Homo sapiens: one gene and its partners. The protein of the gene in region 6 purifies or fractionates together with the protein of the main gene of each other region. This does not show direct contact. Each region holds a gene or a part of one and is shown on either strand. Other genes may lie near its edges.

The links.
Region 1: the proteins of SYNPO (region 6) and SCARA3 purify together in Homo sapiens (co-immunoprecipitation; one large-scale study listed by IntAct). This does not show direct contact.
Region 2: the proteins of SYNPO (region 6) and GNAI3 purify together in Homo sapiens (affinity purification with mass spectrometry; one large-scale study listed by BioGRID and IntAct). This does not show direct contact.
Region 3: the proteins of SYNPO (region 6) and COBL purify together in Homo sapiens (affinity purification with mass spectrometry; one large-scale study listed by BioGRID and IntAct). This does not show direct contact.
Region 4: the proteins of SYNPO (region 6) and TMOD1 purify together in Homo sapiens (affinity purification with mass spectrometry; one large-scale study listed by BioGRID and IntAct). This does not show direct contact.
Region 5: the proteins of SYNPO (region 6) and SPTBN2 purify together in Homo sapiens (affinity purification with mass spectrometry; one large-scale study listed by BioGRID and IntAct). This does not show direct contact.
Region 7: the proteins of SYNPO (region 6) and DBN1 purify together in Homo sapiens (affinity purification with mass spectrometry; one large-scale study listed by BioGRID and IntAct). This does not show direct contact.

Annotation. Positions count from the first base shown.
Region 1 is NC_000008.11:27,664,902-27,668,401, forward strand, and holds part of SCARA3 (scavenger receptor class A member 3), read left to right. Parts: intron 1-3,500. UniProt on the Homo sapiens protein: Seems to protect cells by scavenging oxidative molecules or harmful products of oxidation.
Region 2 is NC_000001.11:109,555,115-109,558,614, reverse strand, and holds part of GNAI3 (guanine nucleotide-binding protein G(i) subunit alpha-3), read right to left. Parts: intron 1-3,500. UniProt on the Homo sapiens protein: Heterotrimeric guanine nucleotide-binding proteins (G proteins) function as transducers downstream of G protein-coupled receptors (GPCRs) in numerous signaling cascades.
Region 3 is NC_000007.14:51,026,810-51,030,309, forward strand, and holds part of COBL (protein cordon-bleu), read right to left. Parts: intron 2,783-3,500; coding exon 903-2,782; intron 1-902.
Region 4 is NC_000009.12:97,504,666-97,508,165, reverse strand, and holds part of TMOD1 (tropomodulin-1), read right to left. Parts: intron 1-3,500. UniProt on the Homo sapiens protein: Blocks the elongation and depolymerization of the actin filaments at the pointed end. The Tmod/TM complex contributes to the formation of the short actin protofilament, which in turn defines the geometry of the membrane skeleton.
Region 5 is NC_000011.10:66,687,717-66,691,216, forward strand, and holds part of SPTBN2 (spectrin beta chain, non-erythrocytic 2), read right to left. Parts: intron 2,568-3,500; coding exon 2,323-2,567; intron 2,228-2,322; coding exon 2,089-2,227; intron 1,465-2,088; coding exon 1,380-1,464; intron 1,134-1,379; coding exon 937-1,133; intron 596-936; coding exon 453-595; intron 364-452; coding exon 288-363; intron 203-287; coding exon 152-202; intron 1-151. UniProt on the Homo sapiens protein: Probably plays an important role in neuronal membrane skeleton.
Region 6 is NC_000005.10:150,647,160-150,650,659, forward strand, and holds part of SYNPO (synaptopodin), read left to right. Parts: intron 1-784; coding exon of another isoform or gene 785-1,116; coding exon 1,117-3,144; coding exon of another isoform or gene 3,145-3,174; exon of another isoform or gene 3,175-3,500. UniProt on the Homo sapiens protein: Actin-associated protein that may play a role in modulating actin-based shape and motility of dendritic spines and renal podocyte foot processes.
Region 7 is NC_000005.10:177,460,135-177,463,634, reverse strand, and holds part of DBN1 (drebrin), read left to right. Parts: intron 1-1,208; exon of another isoform or gene 1,209-1,403; intron 1,404-2,931; coding exon 2,932-2,991; intron 2,992-3,079; coding exon 3,080-3,203; intron 3,204-3,500. UniProt on the Homo sapiens protein: Actin cytoskeleton-organizing protein that plays a role in the formation of cell projections. Required for actin polymerization at immunological synapses (IS) and for the recruitment of the chemokine receptor CXCR4 to IS.

The DNA of each region.
Region 1 (3,500 bases), on a different chromosome or scaffold from region 6:
CTCTCTCCTGGTTGTTAAAGTCACCACATGTAAAATCTCTCACAATTGAAAGCAAATTTCAGGGACACAGTGCACATCCCTTTCTCTGGGGACCTGGTCACTCATTCATTCATCCAGAGACAGGCACAGACAGGCTGTGACACAGGAGCTGGCAATGCGGTCTCCACGTGGCCGGAACTGAGCGGCTATCTGGAATAAAGGGAGGGATTGCAGCGGCTGGAGCCATGTGGAAGGTGCCAAGTCCTGATGGAAGGGTTGGAACTGAGACTGCACAGGCAAGAAGCCTGGCTTCTGATGTGCTCTGGATCTTTAGGCAGAATCACTTCATCCCTCCAGGGCTCTGCTTCATTCAGCTGTAAATGAAGTGGTAAGACCAGCTGATCTCTGAGAACTATTCCAGCTCTAATTAATTCTAAGCCCCCATTTACTCAACAGAAAGACTGTGGTACTTTCATAGTGTTTGTGTCTCTCATAAAATATTTATCTCTTCCTACTCTGCAGGGTAATTTCAGTGTCTGTGCTAGACTGTGTCTGTGCTAGACTGTGTCCATGCTAGGACTATCATTTGGGAATTGTAGACTAAAACCATCATAACGTATTAGCTAAATGACCTGGGGCGGGGCTTTTGGCTACTTTCTTTCTTTCTTTTTTGTAGAGACAGGGTCTCACTTTGTTGCCCAGACTGGTCTCAAACTCGGGCTCAAGCAATCCACCCACCTTCGGCCTCCCAAAGTGCTGGGATTACAGGCAAGAGCCATCACACCCAGCCAAGCTTTGAACTCAGTTTCTTCATCTGCGAATAGAAATATTAATGCCTTTCCTGCCTGTATCCCATAGGGTAATTGTGAGGATCAGTGTTCACAATGGGTGTGAACAAGTTCTTGTAAAATATGAAAGGGTGCTCTGCATAAGGGATTATTATTATGCTAAATTGCTTGGAGACCTAGGCTCCTTGTGTTACTCATCGAGGACCCGGCAGAGTGCTTGGCTCTTGGAAAGTACAAGAAATGTTTGCTCGGTGAATAAATAAATGAAAGTGTGAACAAAAGGTAGAAGCCCAAGATGGGCAAGATACAAAGGGATTCAATCTGCAAATGTGTTGTTCTATAAGCACCACCCTCCATCCTACTTCCACACTGAAGTGTTCAGGAGTTTACCTGTGAAGGACGAAAAAGCAGAGACTGTCATGTCATTCTGCTGTTCAGGCCCAACGAGTTACCTGCGGAGGTGGCAGTGAAGAGGGTTTGGTGGCCCTGACCCAGTTTTTGTTCTCTCAGCCCTGTGATGCTGCTGAAAACTCCACTCAGCTTCTCAGCCTAATAGCTGCAGCCCTTTGTTGGTTTCTAAGCCTCTTTGCACAAACCAATAACAAATCCACAAATGCCTGGAGGGGAAAAGATGTCAGGCTGACTTCAATGAGTCTTCTCTTCTCTGGGATCTTGGCCCTTGGTATCCCTCCAAAGCCTCCAGAAAGATGTTTTGGTCTTTCTCTAACAGCTCTGTTTGTTCTCCGTGGGAGGTTGAATCTGTCATAAACTAGTCCATCGTAAGCAGAAGTCGAAGCCCATGGGCATGTTTTTAACAGCCCTCAGTTGGCAACAAGCAAGTTTGAGAGTCCCTGAGCCAGGCCAATATTCTCATGGAGCAGAGGGGAGCCTGAGCCCCAGCCACGCGCTTTGCTAATATGACAGCTGGGTCTCAAACACTGGGTGCCTGATGTCCACGCCAATGTGCCTCCCACGGCACCAGGCCAGTCCCTCCAGAGGCACCCCTTTGTTTTATTTTCTTCTGTCCTTGTAAGCTGGCCAGTTGCCTTTGACCATAAGATGTACCATGGGCTCCTCCTGGGCCATGCACTGCCCCTCCCATGGGTGGGCAGTGCTGATGCCCGAGACACTGGGCACTCTGCTCACCCCACCCCCTCCTCCCTATCCAAGCTCAGACCACAGAGCCAGCCACTCCATGGTCCCAGACGTGAGGTCAGCTGTGGCTGGACCCTAATGAGCCTGGAAAGCCTGATTACAGCCTGTGGCTTCCTGAGTAATCATGGCCGCCCCCCTCCACCGGACTCCAGGGTGTGCCGGTCCCTCTCCTTCCCACGCACCTCGGCCACTGTTGCCCATCTTCCTTGGTGGCCTGAAGTGCCTTCCCTCAGCTCAGAGCAGCCACTAGCCCTTCTCTAGCCCTTCTCTCCTCTGCCCCTCACCCCTGCCTTGTTATTGGCAGGGTCAGTGGCACCCCGGCCTGGAGGGGCCTTGGTCAGCCTTTGTCCACATTCCTTGCCCCCACACTAACTACTAAACTACAGTTGTTGACTTCCTCCCTAGCCAGACCAGGTCACGCCTGCTGTCAGTCCTCTGCCCGCATGACTCATGCCTGGCCTGGAGGGCAGGTGGTGCCCTGCTCACCTAAGGAAGGCAGCCTTCTGAGTCCCCTTCTCACTCAGTGGGGACCCCAAAGCACTCTTTAGAAAAAGGCTCTGGGGTCTTCCTCCTCCAGGCAGCACCTAGGATTGCAGCCTCTCCTTCCTCCAGGCAGTGCCTAGGATTGCAGCCTCTCCCTCCTCCAGGCAGTGCTGGGAGTGGCACAGGAGCCAAGGTAGCGGCATGGGGGAAGGAGATTGGGTCTTAGAGCCTCTCGGGTCTGGATTGGAATCCTGACGCCAGCACTGTTATCTTGAGCACGTGGCCACCCGCTGCACCTGCATTGTCATCTGTAAAATGGAGCAACAGCCTCCTGCCTGGGACATAGCAGACACTCGACGAAGTTGGCAAATGTCACTGCTCTCATGTCCCTCCCTTCTCCACCCTGTGGGAGATTCAAGAAGGCATGGAGCAGGCAGAGAGTGAGCAGGGCTGACTATGGCACGCCAGCACCGAGCAGCTCCATCCGCCAGCCGTGACACGGGCAGCGAGGGAGGCTTCTGTCGGCACCACAGGCACCTGTCAGTAGCCCACGCGGAGACCCACAAGATGTAGACAGGCCCCCGATAACATCGTCCACTCTATCTTCTCCCGGCCGCTGCCTGGGACACCTCCCACTCCCATCTGGGTTCTCAGAGATGGGGTGAGAAGCGGCAGCTGTGGCTTAGGGGTGGATATAGAGAGGGAGGGAACCCTTCTCCCTGCATCCTCCCTCCACTCACGCTAGGCTGCAGCTCCTGGGCAATGAAGGGAATGATATGACTGAGGCTTCTGCATAAACATCCACCAGGAGCATGTGGGCGCTTGGGCCTCCACACCTAGGGAAAGACTCCCCAGAGCTTTCCGGGAAAGAGGAGCTGGAAGGGGCTGGTCGGGAGGAGGGAGAGTTTTTTCTCCTTTGCTGCTGGCACAGAATCCCTTAGAAATCACAGATAGCCGGGCGCGGTGGCTCACGCCTGTAATCCCAGCACTTTGGGAGGCCGAGGCGGGTGGATCATGAGGTCAGGAGATCGAGACCATCCTGGCTAACAAGGTGAAACCCCGTCTCTACTAAAAATACAAAAAATTAGCCGGGCG
Region 2 (3,500 bases), on a different chromosome or scaffold from region 6:
CAGGGTGATGATGAAGCACAGACCCTGAGCTGGTTATATGCATTTTAAAAAATTCATTCCTAAATTAAAATCAAAGGTAATTAAATTCAGGTTACATTAACTATTCTGAGTTGAATGTGTTGATAATGGGACTTTAAAATCCTGTACCCTACTTCAATTTATTTTTAAATTTTGTTTTTGTTTTTGTTTTTTGAGACAGAGTCTCACTCTGTCGCCCAGGCTAGAGTGCAGTCATTCCACCTCAGCTGACTGCAACGTCCGCCTCCCAGGTTCAAGCGATTCTCATGCCTCAGCCTCCCAAGTAGCTGGGATTACAGGTGTGCACCACCACGCCTGGCTAATTTTTGTATTTTCAGAAAAGACGGGGCTTCACCATGTTGGCCAGGCTGGTCTGGAACTCCTGACCTCAGGTGATCTGCCCACCTCAGCCTCCCAAAGTGCTGGGATTACAAGCATGAGCCACCATGCCTGGCCTAATTTTAAATCTGAATTTAAGTTCTCTCTCCCAACTATACAAGATGGTAATATTGAGAATGAGCAGGCACGTTCTCATGAACTAATGAGAAAGTAAAGCAGTGATATGTTTAGTTCCTCAATACTCCCATGTCATTCCATTATGTTCAACTTATATTTAGTGAGTGCCTACTAGGTGTCAGGCACTGTCATCTCTTTATTAAACATTAACTCTCTGGCCATGCATTTAATAGAGAATTTGACCTACTCCAGTCCTTGAAAGGGTCACCTTATAAAACTCATGATACCCCATCAACTCTGCTATACCCAACCATACATGACTGGATTGTGGTTGGCAGATGACAAGGCTGGGCCAATCTGATACTCTTTACCAGGAACCGGGAATGGGATCCTGGGAGCCTGCATCAGATAACATGAAGCACTTGAACTACCGGGTCAGGCGGTGCGTGAGCCACAGAAGATGTCAGAGTAAACAAAAGTTGAAGACTCGGGGGAGGCCATTCTGCTCTAGGAGAAATAGGGGAGAGGGTGGGGGTTGGGTATCACAGTCCATGTACATACAACCTACCTGTATTTCATTTCTTACCTATTCTTGAATGTCTAACACCTATGAAGTTGCCTACTTTGTCCTTTCAATATACCTCTCTTTTACTTGTGACTTGTATGAGTGGTGTTCCTATTCCTTATGGGCAAAAACACTTTAGCATTCTATTAAGTCCTGCAACAGACAAAAAGATGAGAAATACTTAGTCCTCCTGCCCTAAAAGACCATATGGTTAGGACCAGGTAAGTATATAAATAACCATATATAAGGCAGACTATAAGTGGCATAAAAAGTACTATGAGGTTTCAAAAATAGAGGATCATATCATATCCAATTCAGAACATCAAAACAGTTTCACCAATGGCGAGGCATGGTGACTCACACCTGTAATCCCAGCCTTTGGGAGGTCGAGGCGGGTAGATCACTTTAGGCCAGAAGTTTGAGACCAGCCTGGCCAACATGGTGAAACCCCGTCTCTACTAAAAATACAAAAAATAGCTGGGCACGGTGGTGCACACCTGTACTCTCAGCTACGCAGAAGGCTGAGGCATGAGAATTGCTCGAACCTGGGAGGCAGAGGTTGCAGTGATCCAAGATCATGCCACTACACTCCAGTCTGGGCAACAGAGTGAGACTGTCTCGGGAGGAAAGAGAACTAAATAGTAATCATAACAGACAGTAGTCTGAGATTTTTAAAATGTATTTACTAAGAAAAATAAAATATTAAAATCCTAGGTCAGTCTACCAAAAACAAGTTTTTAAAAATTTTTCTGGTCCTTAAAGTCCAAAAATCTGGAATCTAGTAATGACTGAGTCATAGGACTTCGCAACTGACTGGTTGTAAGAGATGAGAGTAACAGAGGAGTTAAAAACAACTGCAGTTTTCAGCCTAGATGAAGTTGAGAATGCTGGTACTGAAACAGAAAAGTTCCCAACAGGTGGATTTGGGGGTGAGGAGTGAAGGCAAGTTCTATACTGGATAAACTGACTTGAGGTAAGTAGCAGGATATAGTTCATTAATACACTGGGGGAAAAGCAGAAAGAGAAGCCATCTCAAGTAGAGAAAACAGATTTTTCAAAAATTCCAAGTAAAAAATTGTCCTCTAAAAAAGGAACCAAAAGACTCTTCACAATGTTTCAGTTTTTTCTTCCGCGTTTTGAACATTCCATTTTTGCACAGCTACTGATTTTCCTGCCATCTGTCTCTCTATATTGTTTTTTCCTGGTTACAGATGAGCGACTTTTAAGAATGGAAGTTAGAGGCTATAATCTCAGTCTATAATCTCAACATTTTGGGAGGCTGAGGTGGGCAAATCATTGAACCCAGAAGTTCAAGGCCAGCCTGGGCAATATGGCAAAACCCCATCTCTACAAAAAATTAGCCAACGGTGGTGGCATTAGCCTGTAGTCCAAGCTACTCAGGAGGCCGAGATGGGAGGATCGTTTGAGCCTGGGAGGCAGAGGTTGCAGTGATGTTGCAGAGGTTGCATTGAGATTGCACCACTGCACTCCAGCCTGGGCGACAGAGTAAGACTCAACAAAAAAAAAAAAGAAAAAGAATGGAAGTTAATGGAAGGACCTGATGAAACACACACAAACACACACACACACACACACACACACACACACACACGCACGCACGCACTCCTTTCCCCAGGAGAAAGTATGCTGTAGAAGAAACCAGGGAAGGAAGAGAGACAGGATAGGAAAAAAGGAAGTATCTGCAGAGGCCTAACAACTCCCTTTTCCTTCCCAAGCTAGAGGATGCAGAAGCTCAGCACCACGGGGGAGGAACAGCATAGTGCTTCAGGTTTTACTAACCATCTCTAAAAGATCTCTAGACTACGAATCAATTTTATTAGAGACAACTGCCTAAAAACTAAAAGACTTTTTTGTAATAATGCATATAAGTTTAGTATGCTAAAAATTATTTTTTAAAGAAACGTAGTAGCAGCGCTTATTAGAACCTTACATGCCCTGTGAAATCTAGTATTAAGCACCCTACTCTATGGCCATCAGTGTACTACAGGAATAGCGTAGTCAGGGAAAATTACATTATTTTAATTCCTGAAAAGGGCCGTATTTTCAGACTGCAAAAGTGATTAATGCTTCTACATGTGGCTTGTCAATTATCCCAGCACCATTTGTGGAACAGGGTGTCCTTTCGCCACTTCACATTTTTGTTTCTTTGTCGAAGATTAGTTGACTGGAAGTTATTTGGCTTTATTTCTGGGCTCTCTATTCTGTTCCATTAGTCTATATGCCTGTTTTTACACCAGTACCATGATGTTTTGGTGATTATGGCCTTACAGTATAGTTCGAAGTCAGGTAATCTAATGCCTCTAGGTTTGTTCTTTTTGCTTAGTCTTGCTTTGGCTATACGGGCTCTTTTTTGGGTCCACATGAATTTTAGGATTGTTTTTTCTAGTTCTGTGAAGAATGATGGTGGTACTTTAATGGGAATTGCATTGAATTTGTAGAT
Region 3 (3,500 bases), on a different chromosome or scaffold from region 6:
ATTGTTTGAACCCGGGAGGCAGAGGTTGCAGTGAGCCAAGATTGTGCCACTGTACTCCAGCCTGGGCCACAGAGTGAGTCTCCGTCTCAGGAAAAAAAAAGAAAGAAAATCCACTCATGTCAGCCGAGGCCTATAGGGTCAGTTTTACACCCTGTCTATGAGAAGGCACACATAAGAATCAAAGGCTACGTAGTTTCAAACTGCCTCTTAATGGCAGACCACTCCTGCTATTCATCCCAGTGTTCCAGAGCCGATGTGTGTGTTTACATCTTGCAGACCCAGAAGAGAATCCATGGCCCCCACTAACTAGTGCCTGACCTTGGACGAGGCCCCTTGGCCTCACTGTGCCTCAGTTTCATCTGCAAAATGGAAGAAATATCTCATTATTAGCATTGGTGTAGCATGCAAATGAGATAATACTTGTGGTGTGTTAAGTGCCTAGACAATGGGCAAGGCGTGTCCTACAATTACTCCTGTGTTACTGAAGAATGACAGTTCGCTGCTGCTACAAATGCATATGGGAAAGAAGTGGCCCTGCCTGAATTTTCTCCTCTGTTCCATTGTTCAAGGATAACCATATGGATGGGCCTGCCCCTGGCCTCTCCATTCCTCTGGCCCTGTGGATGGACATCACTGGCTGTTACCTTTCCCACAGGGCAGCCAGGGGCCTGAAGTCAGTGTGGACTAGCCTCACACCCATCCATTTTGTCCCTTTAATAGTTCAGTACAAATATCTGGAGGCAGTATGATGGGAATTCTAGTTAAAATGAAACCTGTGTGGTAAGCCTCACTGTTATCCTAATCCCGTCTCTCTCTCTCCTCCGCTTTATTCTGAGACTCTGAGACCAGTGCACTGAAGTGGGCAGGTGTGGAAGGCCTGCCCCGGAAGCCGCCATCCTCACCTTGCGTAGTCTGTCCTTCCCTCCCGCAGAGTGGATGGCTTCCATCAGGGCAGAGTGCAGGGATGTGTCTTTTGGGACTGGTCTCTGGACAACAGGTTTGAATTTTTTCTTCGGCCCAAAAATGCTGGGTGGCCAAATACTGTCTGTTTCATTTCCATCTGTAGAGAACACACTGGGCTTTTCCTCTCTTTCTAGGAGAATGTGGCTTTCTGTGCCAGACCCTCCTGGAGGGTGGGAAGGCTCGCCGTGGCCTGGGGCGCGCACAGAGCCATTGACCAGCTCCCTGCTGCAGGCCTGAGTGTCAGATGTGTGTGGAGGGGGTGGGTCTGTACCATCAGGTGCGCGTCTGGGCTCAGATGCTGAGCTGGCCTCCTGGCTACTTGTGCTTTGCTTTCCACTGAAACCACAGCTCTGTCCCACAGAAACACGATCCCTCTGGGAAGACTGAACCAGTGAGAAACAGGAGCTTCTGTGGATAGCAGCAGGTCTGTCCTGAGTAGACAACTTCCTGTGTGGGCCAATGACCTCCCCCCTAGGAGGGGCTCCCACTGCCAAATCTTCCCCGTGGTTGTTGGGAGGAGTGACACAGGGCCACTGGGCACCATCCTTCCATCCTTGTGTCTCTGAGTGTGGGCTGGATGTCCTGTCATCTTTCACAGTGACAGGTGGTGCAGCCAGCACTGGCGCCTTGCCTGCATAACCCTTCTCGGCATAACCGTGTGGCCTCACCACATCAGCATGGACTTTTGGGGCTCCTATGCGCTTGGCAATGGCAGAGGCCACATACTGGCTGGACGTTCTTCTCTGAGGCTTGAGAAATGTGACTTCTGTGGTGTGAGCTGCTGGCACCCTCACGTGACCCATGCCCATGGTGGGGGGCTGGTTTCTCCCCTCCCCTAGGGGGTTCCGGCCCTCATGGTGGGCAGACTTCTGCTGGGGCGATATTGGCTTGGGGTCTGCTTGGAGTCTGCTCTCTGGATTCTGCGTCTGCGTGGGCACAGGGGTGGAGGGGGGTCCCCTGGCAGAGCTCTCTGAGGGTCGGCCCAGGTGTTTTTCCACAGAGTTGCACCTCCAGAACTCTCTGACTTTCCCAATGGGCTGAGATTCTGCTTCAGGCACAGACGAAGACAGGGAAATGATCCTGATGCCGGTGGCGTGAGGACTCACCAAGTTCCCCAGCTCGTCAATCTTAATGGCTCCGGTGGAGAGGGACACATCTCTGTCGTAACATCGCATCTCTGACTTTGGAGGAATGATTTTATACGTTGTGAGGCCGTGCTTAAGTCTGTAGCTTTTCCCTGGGTTTTGGCCTCGTTGGTGCCATGATGTTGGTGCCAAGGCAGCGTTTTTATCGTTGCTGTCCTTTTCATTCACCGGTTGGGAATTCACTCTCTCTGTGGCTTGAGTCCTCTCCCCGTCAGCACAGCCATACACTTTGTCTTTCACTTTTGCATTTAGGTTGTCTGTGTGAAGATTCGAAGCAAAAGAAGTCACCCTGGGCGCCGTTTCCATTAGATTCCCATCTTTAGAGATGTTAGATAAGGCCACACGGATTCCTTTTCCGACGTCATGGGAAGCGGGGTGCAGGGCAGGTACTTCCTCCCTTGCCTTTTCATGGGGCTGGCTGTGCTCAGCTTGAAGTGGCGCCAGGGAGTCTCTCCTGCTGGCAACACCCTCCGAGTCGAAAGACCCAGCATTGTTGTTTCTATTGGAAAACAACCCCGAATCCACAGGATCATCTGAAACTTCCCCTATGAATGTTACTGGGATTGCATCTGTGTCGCCGTGAGGGATCATGGCATCCTGTGGGCAGTGGTTGGATGCACCATGGATGGAGCTGGTGAGGGAGCTGGTGTCTGTTTCATAGCTGTCTTCCATTTCTGCAAAGAGGGACAAACACAAATCACAGATGTTTCCCACACCAATTACTTAGTGTAACTGCAGCCATGACTTTGATTTCCCTGAGGTTACTTTTGAATACATTATTTATATACGTTTTAAAATGTTATTTGGGTTTGTAATCTACATAATATGCCTGGGGCCAGAAGCTCAACTTTCATTACTCAACACAGCTGTTTGCAGATCCATGATGTTTCAAGGCAAGGTATTCAGTTACAATGTGCTGCCAACATCCTTCACTTAAAAAACTGATTTGTAGATCCAAGCCTCTGGAAAAACTGTCTCAACACAGAAACATGAAAATGAGTTTTGGGTTTTGACCTCCATGTTTCTCATGTCCACTAGAAGCACAACAAAATCCAGAGGACCACGGGCTGTAGCTTTAACTTCTTAAGGAAGCAGATGACTAAATCTTGAGTATCTCAGAATTACCATGGCTCTTCCAAGCACCAAATTATGCAATGGTCATGGGGTCAGAACCTGCGGGACACACTATGGCTGATTCAAATTTTTAGCTCTGTCAACTATACATTCTCAGGACAGGAAACTGAAAAGTGAGTCAGACAAAAACTACTCGTCAGTTTTGCAGTCTGTTATCTTCTCTCTAAGGCATGATAAATATCTAATTTTTAGTTTATTTTCAACATGTGCATTGGAGAAAATAACATAGCTGCTTTGTTTGAAAGATTCCCTAGCTGT
Region 4 (3,500 bases), on a different chromosome or scaffold from region 6:
TTACAGAGCCAGTAACTAGTAGACCTTGGATTTGAATCCAGCAAGGTGGTCTCCAGAGTCTGTGTGTGTGTGTGTGTGTGTGTGTGTGTGTGTGTGTGTGTGTGTGTGAATCAGGAAGATAGATTGTGTTTCATTATGTGTCAATTGCTATTTAAGGCCCCCCAAAGGACTAATGAAGGATTTGAGTCTGCCCTTCATTGCTCCTAGGTTCCCTGGCCTTGTGCAGACTGATCCGGAGTCCGCCTTAACTACTATGCCCTCTGTCTAGTGGCCTGTCTTGACAATATACTGAGGATTGGGGTTAAGAAAATAGTTCCCTCTCCTGAAAGACTGATTGATGTTCTTCCTTCTACTATCAGACACCAAGAGTCCTCCCATTCATCTTGTCCCCCCCTTTCCCCTTGGCTGCCATGAGTCATCTCAGAGCCAATTTGAGTGTCCAAATACAGTTGTCATCTTCAGCCAGGGCACTGGCATAATTTTCTCTCTTTATTCTCTGTATCGGGTGCTCTTAACCCGGACTTTTGAATAGGCTTCAGGGGAATCACACACCCACTGAAATGATATGCAAATTGTTGTGTATATGAATATATTCATTTTTGTGGAGCAAGAATTCATAAGCTCTAATCAGATTCTCCAGGAGTTTCGTGATCTTAATCTTCAGGGTTTCTGCCTGTCTTTCTAGAATTTCTGTTCTTACTAGTTGCATTGGTCATGTAGTTTATTTTTTAAGCCATCTCAAGCCTTTTTAATGCTGTAAGTGGAATACAATGTAAAACCATAATAAGCAAATGCGTGCAATGTTGCTATCCATTCTGAATTTTTAAATCTCTCTTGGTTTGCATGGAGGAAGTCTGTCCTCACGTCTCCCTCTCTCTTACCTTCACTTTGCACACTTCTGAGTGGTTTTGATGTCTCAGGGTCTCAGGTGTCTCAGGTTCCCATCCCAGCACTGCCCAGGCACCCATCTTGTGCTCATAGATCCAAACTTGCAAGAAGTTTGCTGACCAGAAAGAGCCCTTGATTTTGATCCAAGGCACAAATGAATTCATTTGTAGATTTAAAAATCCACTATCTTAATGCAATGGCCAGGAGGAAGCTTTGTGGTAACTAGCACTCACCTTGGTGTTCAAAATGTGGTGGTTTGTAGATACTAGTCAACACCACCTGACTAGATGTTTATTAGAGCTTATTAGGAATTATTAAGTTTATTTTCTAATCAACTTATTAGAGCTTATTAGAAGCAAGGAGCTTTTTAGAAACTCAGACTCTCAAGCCCCATCTCATACCTACTGAACCAGAATCTGCATTTCTGAAAAGATCCCAAGTAATTTCAATGCACATTAAAGTTAGAGAAGCACGGATATAAAACAAGAAGACTCATTTCTCAAGTTTGTCAAACCCTGGAGAGCACTTCAGTTTTCTGGAATTGGATGACCTGGGACAATTCCTACTAGGGTTCACTGTCCCATTACAAAAGGTAGGTAACAATACTTGCTGTTCCTCCCTCATGGGGTTACTGTGAATTTCAAATGAGCTCTTGGATTCACACTAGCTACGTATCATGATGGGGCTGATAGGAGCTGGAGAGCTGGCAGTGGGGAGCAGAATAGGTGTGGTCTCTGCCCTCATAGAGCTGATGATTTGGTCGGGTAGGAGAACATGCTGTAAATGCTGGTTGGTGTTGTGTGACTGTCCTGGTTATCACAGAGCCTTCATTCATTTATTTCATGCATTCATTCATTCATTCGGTGGTCAGCCATTTATTAAAACCTGAAGTGCCTGTACTATGTCACACATTAAGCTCTGAGCTGCACATGGGGAAGCAGAAATAAATGAGTCAGAAACCTCGTCCTCAGGGAGCTTTTAGTCTAGCCAGAGACAGAGATACATCATTGGGTGGTTCCATTTAGAACACACTCTGGCTGGTGCTCTGAGTTGGCACAGGGGGCTGTGGGGGTACAGGTAAATCAATGAAGAACTTTGCTTTTAAGGGTGATTACAAGTTCACAGACTGAGAAGAGGGAGAACAGCACTGAAGGCCGAAAGAACAGCAGGGGAAAGGCAGGGAGGCATGAAGGCACAGCATGCTTTTGCCATGGCCAGAAGGTAAAGAGAATTTGGAGGAGTGCCTAGAGATGATTTTGGAGAAGTAGCTTGAGGCCCGGTCTTAGAGGCTAATGAATCTGGTCTTTATCCCTTAGGAAATGGGGAGTCCCTGAAGGGAGACAATTGACGCAGGTGAAGATCTTTTAAGAGCAGCATGGAAGAAGGAATGACTTGAGGCAGAAATACCTTTAAGAGGCTCTGAGAGCAGCTTAGGGGAGAGAGGAAGTCCTTACTGGGGTACTGGATGTGGCGATAGAAATGGATGTAAGAGAAATTAAGGAAGGTAGCATTGACAGGACTTGGTGGGCAAATGAATGGGGTGGTGAAGAGAAAGGAATCAGGAGGCAGAGATGTCTATAGATGAGGAGCACAGTCCAGCTTGATGCAAGAATTAGGGAGTTGGGAGGTGACTGGAGTCGTGGGAGTGAATGAGACTGTGAGAGTGTGCGGTGGAAAGAGAATAGGGGTAGGAGTGGCACCAAGGCACCAACAGCAAAGCGATGGGCAGCAGCGATGAGTCTATGAAGGAGGCTGAAGGATGCCCAGAGGCAGTTCTGCTTTCCTTCATTCCTTTGGGCATGGAGAGCAACAACGCAGTGGTCACAACTCATCACCCTCCAGAATCATCGCTAGAAACGGCCCTGGGGTCACCACCCTTGAAGCCCCAGAGTGAGTGGGGCCTGAGGCTGGGGCCCCTGAGAACATGAACTGAGACAGGGATGGACATGCGTGGACGGACGCAAGCCCTTGTCTCCCTCTCCCTCCCTCTTTCCTCCTCACAGATGGTAATGTCCAACCCTTTCACAAATCATTTTTTTCTCTGAAAGAAAACCAAAAGGACATAAGAGAAGGAGAAACAAAAGGCATGCTTGAGTTTGTTTAGTTTTTCAGATCAGACAAAAACCCAGCAACACCTAACACGAAAGAAAACCTCCCAGACCGTGTCCTAAGTTGACTCCAATGAGCTCATTCTCTCATTAAGAGCAAAGAGAATTAGGTTCTATCATGATTAGCCAAAGGAAGATTTTACAAAACAAAACAAAAGAGAGGAAATGGCCCGGAATTGTGCTATCTGGTTCATGCTTTTCCATAGAAACAGGCCTGTGGTTTTAAACTGATAATGGCTCCTAGCAGCCCAATAATTGATTTATCTGGTGTTCTGGCTTTAAGGGAAAAGTAAACTGGCCTCTTTAGAAATGTTGGCAGCCTGGCTGGTCCATTAGTAAGACTGAAAAGTCAAAACATTGACTGGAAAAGGCCATTACGACCGGGCTCAGCAGGAGTCATCGATAGATGATGTCATTTCAGAAATAAATAAGCCAAGGTTATGAGGCCCCAGAGCAGGGTCAAAACACTCTTCACAGCCCATCACCATCCTCCATCGCAGATAC
Region 5 (3,500 bases), on a different chromosome or scaffold from region 6:
CGTGTCCAGGAGTTGGTCTTCCTGCCCCCAAGCTGCCTGTGAGCCTCTGCCCTCTCCCATCCCATCCCCAGTACTCCCCCACCCGCACTCACCACCCCCTCTGGACCCTTCGCCTCACAGTTATCAACACCACACTTGCAGGGGAACTCACCGGCCCTTCGGGGAAGCTGCTGTGCTCAAGTCTCTGTTGTCCCAGCAGGGGCTGCAAGGACAAGAATCTGTAAAAGGATGTGCGGGGGTGGAGGGGCTACGACTCCGATGGGGGCACAGAGGGACAGTGGGGTCACCTGTGAGGGCTCTCCATCTGTGCAGACTCCATTAACACTGGGTGCTTGTGTGGATGGTGGTGGCCGTGGCTGGGTTCTGGGATGACCAAAGGCAACACAGAATCATTAGTCCCTGGGTGGCCTGGGCTCAGCCGCCTCCTCCTACCCAGGCATCCTGGCTCTCACCCGTCCCAGGTGGTGTCAGAAGCTGTCTGGCCGCCCACCAGGTCCCCTGGAGGCACACTGGCTGTGGGTTCGGGAGCAGGCGGCTGTTTCCGCCGCTCCTCCTCCTCCCTCTTTCTCTTTCGCTCCTTCTCCCGCTCCTCTAGCTGTCAAAAAATGCTGCATTCAGCGTGTAGAAGGTTGCGTGTAAGAGGGCCAGGGAAACAGGGAGAGCTGAAATGTCTCAACTCTAATTTGATGAAATATGATAAGAGGAGAACAGAATTTGAGAAGATGGTGGGGACAAGAAACAAAGCGGGAGAAGGTGTCTCGGCATCACCCAGGGGAACTGACACCTCCTAAAGGTGTGGTGACAATGGCACTCTCAGCTCACATCTGGGGGCCACTGGTGCAGTGGGAAGAGAGAAGACATGTCTTCTCCAAGCAGAAGCCAGCACAGGTCAGGGGAGCAGGTTGGAGTGGGCATCCGGGGTCCTGTGTCCCTCACCGCAGTAAGCTTCTCCAGCGCACAGAATCGCTCCTCCCAGGCCACTGCTGACTTCTGGAAGGCCTCGTGCCGCTTGATGAGGCTCTCAACTTCGTCGACCGTGCAACCCAGCTCAGCGCTGCGCACCAGTGGCTCCTGGCTGCAGAGCCAGGCCTCTGCCATCCCTGCATCTCTTCCAAACACAAGCACCTCCAAAACTGGCAGGATCGGGGGTTGCAGGAAGATGGTGGGTCAGAGTGGCCACTGGCAGGGCACAGTGGCCATGGCAACCTCAAGAACAGGGACACAGAGAAAGCCACTGCCCCAGAGCTGTGCCAGGCAGCACGAAGATTGGGCATCGTGAGTTTCACACCCAGGGTTCCTAGTCTCACCTACTCTGGAACCCACAGGGTGCAGGATGCCCCCCACTCCCCACAGGGCCTGGGGCCCCCTTGGCAGCTCACCCAGCTGAAGCCAGTCCATCTTCTCCTGCCACTTCTCAGCTGTCTCCTGGCGCCGTGCCTGCAGCTGAGACAGCTTCTCTGAGATCTGGGGGCGGGGGGCAGAGATATGAGTTAGCACCAGGATGTGAGATCTTTCCACGGCCCCTGGGGAGTCATCCAGGGGGACAGGTGATTTCTTTCTTTCTTTCTTTTTTTTGAGACGGAGTTTCGCTCTTATCACCAAGGCTGGAATGCAGTGGCGCAATCTCAGCTCACTGCAACCTCCACCTCCCAGGTTCAAGCAATTCTCCTGCCTCAGCCTCCGAGTAGCTGGGATTACAGGTGCCCGCCACCACGCCCGGCTAATTTTTGTGTTTTTAGTGGAAACGGGGTTTCACCATGTTTCATCACAGCCCAGCCACACAACCCATGGAGGCCAGGCTGGTCTCGAACTCGTGACCTCAGGTGATCTGCCCGCCTGGGCCTCCCAAAGTGCTGGGATTACAGGCGTGAGCCACCATGCCTGGCCCAGGACCAGTGATTTCTGATGTCAAGAGGCAGACGGTTCTGGGGAGAGATTTCCAGAATGCGAGAAACCCGTGAATGGCACTGAGGGGAGAGAATGAAAGGTTTCTTGCAAAGAGAGAATGAGAGGAAGCAGAAAGCCACCAAGAAGTCAGCGTTCAGCACTGCACAGTGAGAATGGCCCGGCCACCCAGGCCTCACCCACCTCCTCGGCCGCATAGTGGCTCCTGGCCAGCAGCTCCTTCCCCATGTCGATGCAGGAGGAGAAGCGGTCTGCCCGGGCCTCTATCTCTGCCTTGATGCCTTGCTGGTTCTTGATGACTAGATCCGCGGAGGACACATCCCTGGGGGGAGGCAGAAACAGCATCACCTGCTGCCCACAGCCCCATCACAGCCCAGCCACACAACCCGTGGAGGCCCTGAGCCCTGGGATTCTCACCGGGGACGCTCCTGGGCATCCATCTGCAGGTTGACCTCATCCATCCAGAGCATCAGTTCCCGGACAGCCTTGAAGAAGCGGAACTTGTCTGTGGTGTCCAGCAGCAGCTGCCGGCGGGCGGCAGAGCTTCCCTGAAGCTGGGCCCAGGCCTCGGCCACGGCCTGCATGTGGCGGCCGATCTCCTCAGCCTTGTCTCCAGCGTAGGCCTTCTGGAGCCGGTGGCCGTCGTCCTGCACCTGCTGGACCTGCGGAGCCCCGGGTCAGAGTCAGGCAGAGCGGGGGACTCCAAGGAGCCGCAGCCTGCCTCAGTCCTGGCTGCCACTCTCACCTCCTGCCTGTCTCACAGCCAAAGAAGCAGGGGGAGGAGCCAGGGAGTGGGGGTGCTGGGAAAGATGAAGGCAGGGGCTGGCCACACTCTGCCCTGTTGGGTCTCATCTAGACACCTGGGCTTAACTGGGGGAGGATCTGGAAAAGAGCCATTGGCCAGTTGAACTTTCAGAGGCCTGTCTAGGATGTGATAGACCTTGGAGATTGCTAGAACGTGCTACTTAGCCTGAAAAGGGGATTCAGGCAGGGGCTGATGGGTTCTAGTGGTTGAAGGAAGGATCCATGCTTACTGAGTGTGAGCCTAGAGCTCAAGCCTGGGAAGCACTAACAGGCTGATTTAGCGCAGCATGAAGAGTCTCCTGGCCACTGGGAACCCCTGAAGACATCATGGGCTCTCAAGGGGGCTTGTCATCAAAAGTGTGAATGCAGTGGCTAGATGTCCCCTGCCAGAGATGTTTTCTTTCTTTTTGAGACGGAGTTTCGCTCTTGTTGCCCAGGCTGGAGTGCAGTGGAGGGATCTCAGCTCACTGCAACCTCCGCCTCCTGGGTTCAAGTGATTCTCCTGCCTCAGCCTCCTGAGTAGCTAGGATTACAGGCATGCGCCACCATGCCTGGCTAATTTTGTATTTTTAGTAGAGAAGGGGTTTCTCCATGTTGGTCAGGCTGGTCTCGAACTCCCAATCTCAGATGATCCGCCCTCCTCGGCCTCCCAAAGTGCTGGGATTACAGGCGAGAGCCACCGCGCCTGGCCAAACAGAGATGTTTTCTTGGAGCAATTTCCTCATCTCGAAATGGCCCTCGAAAGAGTGCCGTCCTCCCAGCATTTCTGAGCTCTACCCTAGCTCCTGGGA
Region 6 (3,500 bases):
TTGAACCTGGGAGGCGGAGGTTGCAGTGAGCCGAGATTGCGCCGCTGCGCTCTAGCCTGGGCGACAAGAGCAAAAACTCCTTCTCAAAAAAAAAAAAAAAAAGTCAGGCAAGGTCATTGCCCCTTGGAGCTATGCTGTAGGTGAGGAGACAGATAATAGACAGGGAAACATAAAGATCATTTCAACTTGGTGAATGCTATGGAGAAAACAAAACAGATGGGATAGGAGAAGGAAAGGTGCCTCCAGAGAGGGGACATTCCAGCTGAGACTTGAGTGGCAAGATAGGAACCAGCATGGACTGCTACCTGGGAAAAGATTATTCCAAGGAGAGCGAGCAGCAAGTCCAAAGGCCCTGGGGCAGGAACATACTTGGCATTTTCAAGGAAGAGAAAGCAAGCCAGTGTGGCAGAGCCTAGTGAGAGAGGAGAAGGCAGTGGGGAGGAACTGGGGACACGGTGGGACTTCTAGGGTGAGGTGTTCGTACTCAGTTTGGTAAAGTGCCATATCAGCAACTGTCAGGGGGATTCCAAATCAGGGACCAGTTAATCCTGAGAGGATAATCAGGGTGGCGTAGACGTGGTGGCATTTGAGTTGGGCCATGAAAGGTAGGTCAGGGCTGATTACGAAGTGAGCTAATTCTAAGAAACAGTGAGTGACGATTAAATTCCAGAAGAGATCCTGTGTAGGAAGGGCCGAGGCGACCATCTCTGTCTGCCTGTTTGTCCGTGCACCCCTGTGTCACTGCATTCCTGTTTGCTAACTGGGCTTTTGTCCCTCCCTGTAGCGTTGGGCCGGAGCACTAGCCTCACGGAGAAGGATCTGAAAGAAGCCAAGGCGCGGAGCCAGCAGATTGCAGCCCAGCTGACCACCCCTCCCAGCTCCAATTCCCGTGGCGTCCAGCTCTTCAACAGGCGCCGGCAGAGGGTGAACGAGTTCACCTTGGAGAGCCACGGCCAGAGGGGACAGAAGCCCAGCCAGGAGTCCCTCAGAGTGCTCCCTTCAAGCCTCCCAGGCCATGCACCGGGGCTCAGCCTGAGTTCCACCTCGCTGCCGGAGCCAGGCCCTCCACGGCACCCCAGTCCCCAGAGCCCCGACAGAGGGGTCCCTGGCCACAGCATGGAGGGGTACTCAGAGGAGGCTAGCTTGCTGCGGCACCTGGAGAAGGTGGCCAGTGAGGAGGAAGAGGTACCACTGGTGGTTTATCTAAAGGAGAATGCAGCACTGCTGACAGCCAATGGGCTGCACCTGTCCCAAAACCGAGAGGCCCAGCAGTCCTCACCGGCCCCACCTCCAGCTGAGGTCCACAGCCCAGCTGCAGATGTCAACCAAAACCTTGCCTCGCCCAGTGCCACGCTCACCACACCAACTTCTAACAGCAGCCACAATCCGCCAGCCACCGATGTCAATCAGAACCCACCGGCAACTGTTGTCCCACAGAGCCTGCCACTTTCTAGCATCCAACAGAATTCCTCAGAGGCCCAACTCCCATCTAATGGCACAGGGCCTGCTTCCAAACCCAGCACCCTGTGTGCTGATGGGCAACCCCAGGCACCGGCTGAGGAGGTGAGATGCAGCACACTCCTAATTGACAAGGTATCAACTCCAGCTACCACCACCAGCACCTTCTCCAGAGAAGCTACGCTCATCCCCAGCTCCAGGCCCCCAGCCTCAGATTTCATGTCCAGCTCCCTGCTCATTGACATCCAGCCCAACACCCTAGTGGTGTCAGCAGATCAAGAGATGTCTGGGCGAGCAGCTGCCACCACGCCCACCAAGGTCTACAGTGAGGTCCACTTCACACTGGCCAAGCCCCCATCAGTGGTCAACAGGACGGCCAGGCCTTTTGGGATCCAGGCGCCAGGGGGCACCAGCCAGATGGAGAGGAGCCCCATGCTAGAGAGACGACATTTTGGGGAGAAGGCCCCGGCTCCCCAGCCCCCCAGTTTGCCAGACAGGAGCCCCCGGCCACAGAGACACATAATGTCCCGCAGCCCCATGGTGGAAAGGAGGATGATGGGGCAGCGAAGCCCGGCCTCAGAGAGACGCCCCTTGGGGAACTTCACTGCACCCCCCACCTACACTGAGACCTTGTCCACAGCCCCTCTGGCTTCCTGGGTGAGGTCTCCTCCCTCATATTCTGTCCTGTATCCCAGCTCCGACCCCAAGTCTTCTCATCTGAAGGGCCAGGCGGTTCCTGCCAGCAAGACGGGCATTCTGGAGGAGTCGATGGCCCGCCGGGGCAGCCGCAAATCCATGTTTACTTTCGTGGAGAAGCCCAAGGTGACCCCGAATCCAGACTTGCTGGATCTGGTACAGACAGCGGATGAGAAGCGGCGGCAGAGGGACCAGGGGGAGGTAGGCGTGGAGGAGGAGCCCTTCGCACTGGGGGCCGAGGCCTCCAACTTCCAGCAGGAGCCAGCACCTCGTGACAGGGCCAGCCCCGCGGCGGCGGAGGAGGTGGTACCAGAGTGGGCCTCCTGCCTCAAGTCACCCCGCATCCAGGCCAAGCCGAAGCCCAAACCCAACCAGAACCTCTCCGAGGCCTCTGGGAAGGGAGCTGAGCTCTACGCCCGCCGCCAGTCACGGATGGAGAAATATGTCATCGAGTCTTCAAGCCACACGCCAGAGCTGGCCCGCTGCCCATCACCTACCATGTCCCTGCCTTCCTCCTGGAAATACCCCACTAACGCCCCCGGGGCCTTCCGAGTGGCATCCCGAAGCCCAGCCCGGACCCCGCCTGCCTCCCTCTACCATGGCTACCTGCCTGAGAACGGGGTCCTGCGCCCAGAGCCCACCAAGCAGCCGCCATACCAGCTGCGCCCCTCGCTCTTTGTCCTCTCACCTATCAAGGAGCCTGCCAAGGTCTCACCAAGAGCTGCCTCGCCCGCCAAGCCCAGCTCCTTGGACCTGGTGCCCAACCTGCCCAAGGGGGCTCTCCCTCCATCTCCTGCCCTGCCTCGGCCCTCGCGCTCCTCACCGGGCCTCTACACCTCCCCCGGCCAGGACAGCCTGCAGCCCACTGCCGTGAGCCCTCCTTACGGCGGTGACATCTCCCCCGTGTCTCCCTCCAGGGCGTGGTCTCCCCGAGCCAAGCAGGCCCCCAGGCCCTCCTTCTCTACCCGGAACGCCGGGATCGAGGCTCAGGTGTGGAAGCCTTCCTTCTGCTTCAAGTAACGAACCCCACGGGGGTCCCACTGCCGGTCAAGTTCCCCTCCTTGAGGGCCAGATGGAGAGCAGATGTGGCAGGAAATGGCACAGAGCTGAGTGAGGAGAATGGGGAGTCCATGGTTCAAGGTCAGATGCGGCCACCAGCTGGCTTTGTGACCTTGGGCGAGTCGCCTCCCCTCTCTGAGCTGAAGCCGCCCCTCCCCTACTACAACAGGGGTCGGACTCCATGTCTGAGCGGGGAGGAGGGTCATGGAGAGAGAACTGTCTGGCAGCCCTGATGCGGTAGAGGGGCATCCTCTGGCCTTTGTGAGCTGTAGGGATGCAGAGTCTGA
Region 7 (3,500 bases), about 27 Mb from region 6:
CTTTCAATTTCAGGTCCTCTAAGGAAGGGAATATGCGAGAGACTTTGGGATTTAGCACTGTGAAATGCTTTCTCTTGGCTTAAGGAGCTGTTGCTTTCTCTCCCCTGTTACGAATTGTGTTCCATATCTGAGTTCCCTTTTTGCCTGGCCTGCAGGGGAGCTCCCGTGTATCTGAAAATGCTTTAGGCACAGCAGTGGCTTTGACCCATGTGGTTAGTGCGTTGATCTCTCTCCTCCCTCTGGGCCTTACTTGTTTCAGTGTTCACATGGTTGGTAGTTTATTAAAGCCTTTGTGGAGGGCTGGGCTCAGTGGCTCATGCCTGTAATCCCAGCACTTTGGGAGGCCAAGGCAGGCGGATCATGAGGTCAGGAGATCGAGACCATCCTGGCTAACATGGTGAAACCCCGTCTCTACTAAAAAATACAAGAAATTAGCCGAGCGTGGTGGCGGGCGCCTGTAGTCCCAGCTACTCGGGAGGCTGAGGCAGGAGAATGGCGTGAACCCGGGAGGCGGAGCTTGCAGTGAGCCGAGATCTCGCCACTGCACTCCAGCCTGAGTGAAAGACTCTGTCTCAGATTAAAAAAAAAAAAGCCTTTGTGGTAGTTGCCTCTGGTCCTTTCTTTGAACAAGGCAGAGGAACCAACTGAGATTACAGCAGGCAGTGGGCAGAGCAGCAAAGGCTGGTGGGACACAGGCTCATGGGAAGGTGAAGAGCCTAGGCTGACTGGAACCCCGTGGGCTGAGGAGTGGGGGAGATTTGATTGGGAAAGGAGAGCAAGGGCAGAGGAGGAGTTTAGACTTCATTCTGGGGGTCACAAAGTTATCACTGAGGTGATAGCCCTCCTGAGGTGGGATACTACGAAGGGCCCTTCTCCCAGTGCTCCTGACATAAGCTAAAATTTTAGATTATAGGCTCAAAAACAGAGCAGCCCTGGGACTTCACCACCTTAGCAGCCCCTCCTGCCCAAGCTGCCACCTGAGCAGCAGGGGACACCGACTAAGAAGCCTTTGGTGTGTGAGTGCAGTTGAGCAAACATGCGCCCGCCTTGTGCTGGCCACCCACCCGGAGACCCCGGTCCTCATCCTGCGTTGCTCACAGCGGAGGGGGGAGGTGCCTCCGGAAACAGGAACTTAGGATGTGGTGTCATCGTGGTGGAAGCCAGGAGCACCCTGTGGGGACCCAGAGGAGGAAATGACCTGAACAAGCCTCTTGTTCAGAGGTCCTTCCCCAGGAAGCAGTGGCCACGCTGCAGCTGGAAACCAGAGGGCCTGGCCCCCGGGTGGGGAGCAGGCATTTGGGAGGGAGGCCAGTCTCCCATGCTGAGGCTTGGAGGTGGGAACGGGTGTGCCTGTTCTGGGAACTGACTGCGTCGTGCTGAGGACTTGATGTCTACATCTCACAGTATGTGGGAGCCTTGGGGTGGGGGCCGGCAGGGGGTGGTGTTGGAGAGGTGACGGCTAGGTCAGGCAGGGGTGGGGGACGTAGGCCAAGTGCGGGCGCTGCCCACCCAAAACAACGTGTGCAGTGGGCAGGTGAAGCCAGTAGGCGATGGTGGGGCCGGGGGTGAGCGGGTGGCACACGCCTGTCTTAAGGGGGCTGCGGCGAGGCCCCGGTGATGGCTGCTCCGGGCTTGCAGGTGATGTCGCCAGGGCTCTGTCACCTCAAGAGAAACTGGGACCCTCATCTCAGTATGAAAGTTCCTGGTTTTTAAGTGGTGGTAACTAATGAACATGGTTTAAAAATATCATACCAGCAAAACAAAAGCCATCTGTGGGTCATATTTAGCCAGTGCTTGCTGTGGCTCATGGGAACCCCTGAGGGATTTTAAGCTCAGGAAAATCATGGTCTGATCCGCATTTTGGAAAGGTCCTTTCAGGGCCTATGGAGAGCAAATAAGGCAGGTAGCAGTGAGGAAGGCTGGACCATGATGCCACGGTCCAGGCAGCAACATTGGGAGCATGGTGGCCCCGGCACTAGGGTAGGAGGTCCAAGAAGTTATCTGCAAAACAAGGAGCACTTCTGGAGGGCCCTAGGCACCTGCTTAGATATGGGGATGAGCAAGTGAGTGAGTGAGCCTGGTGCCCAGAGGCCTGGCAGGTCAGAGATGAGGTGGCTGAGGGCCCTGAGGGAAGAGAGGGGCTGTGTGACAGGGTTTGACGGGGCAGAGGTACCACCTCTGAAACCCTTCCTGCCAGATTGCGAAAGAAGCATGGGGGCTGTAAGAAGGCCAGAAGGGGCCGGGCGCGGTGGCTCACGCCTGTAATCCCAGCACTTTGGGAGGCCGAGGCGGGCGGATCACGAGGTCAGGAGATCGAGACCATCCCGGCTAAAACGGTGAAACCCTGTCTCTACTAAAAATACAAAAAATTAGCCGGGCGTAGTGGCGGGCGCCTGTAGTCCCAGCTACTTGGGAGGCTGAGGCAGGAGAATGGCGTGAACCCGGGAGGCGGAGCTTGCAGTGAGCCGAGATCCCGCCACTGCACTCCAGCCTGGGCGACAGAGCGAGACTCCGTCTCAAAAAAAAAAAAAAAAAAAAAAGAAGGCCAGAAGGCCGGGCACTGGTGGCTCATGACTGTAATCCATCCCAACACTTTGGGAGGCCAAGGCAGGAGGATCCCTTCAGCCCAGAAGTTTGAGACCAGCCTGGGCAACATAGGGAGACCCCATCTCTACCAAAAAATTAAAATTAGCCGGGCATGGTGGTGCACACCTGTAGTCCCAGCTACTCGGGAGGCTGAGGTGGGAGGATTGCTTGAGCCCAGGAGGCAGAGGCTGCAGTGAGCCGTGATTGTACCACTGCTCCCCAGCCTGGGTGGTAGGGCGAGAACCTGTCTTAAAAACAAAATCAATAAATAAAATACAGTAAAAAAGAAGGCCAAAAGCCCCTGTGGGGGGTAGGTGCACCAGACACTGTCCCTTTGGTTTCTAGGGTGACCATCGGGATGAGGAGGAAGAGACCCACATGAAGAAGTCAGAGTCGGAGGTGGAGGTGAGAGCTGGGGGCACCAGCCAGGTGAGGCAGACAGGGCTATCTCAGCTTGCCTGGCCCAGCCCCAACCTTTTCCTCGTGCCCTCAGGAGGCAGCAGCTATTATTGCCCAGCGGCCTGACAACCCAAGGGAGTTCTTCAAGCAGCAGGAAAGAGTCGCATCGGCCTCTGCGGGCAGCTGTGATGTACCCTCGCCCTTCAACCATCGACCAGGTAGTCCTAGGCCCCACCCCCCGTCCGGCCCCACTCCTCAGGTTGCGGCCCTGAGCCTCTCTGGGACTCTCTCAGAAGGGAGGCCTTGCCCAAGCAACCCTTGGAGAAGGCGAGACCCTTCATCCAGCGTGCATCCGCCCACCACTTCCCAGGTGGCAGGACCCCAAGAAGGGCCAGGGATGGTGGTGAAGTCGCTTGTGGCTGAACAGTGGGGAGTGCTAGGGCCTGTGGGGCAGCTCTGGCATGGGCTGAGGCACAGCGCTGGCCACGGGGAGCAGCTCGGCTGGGGTGAATTAG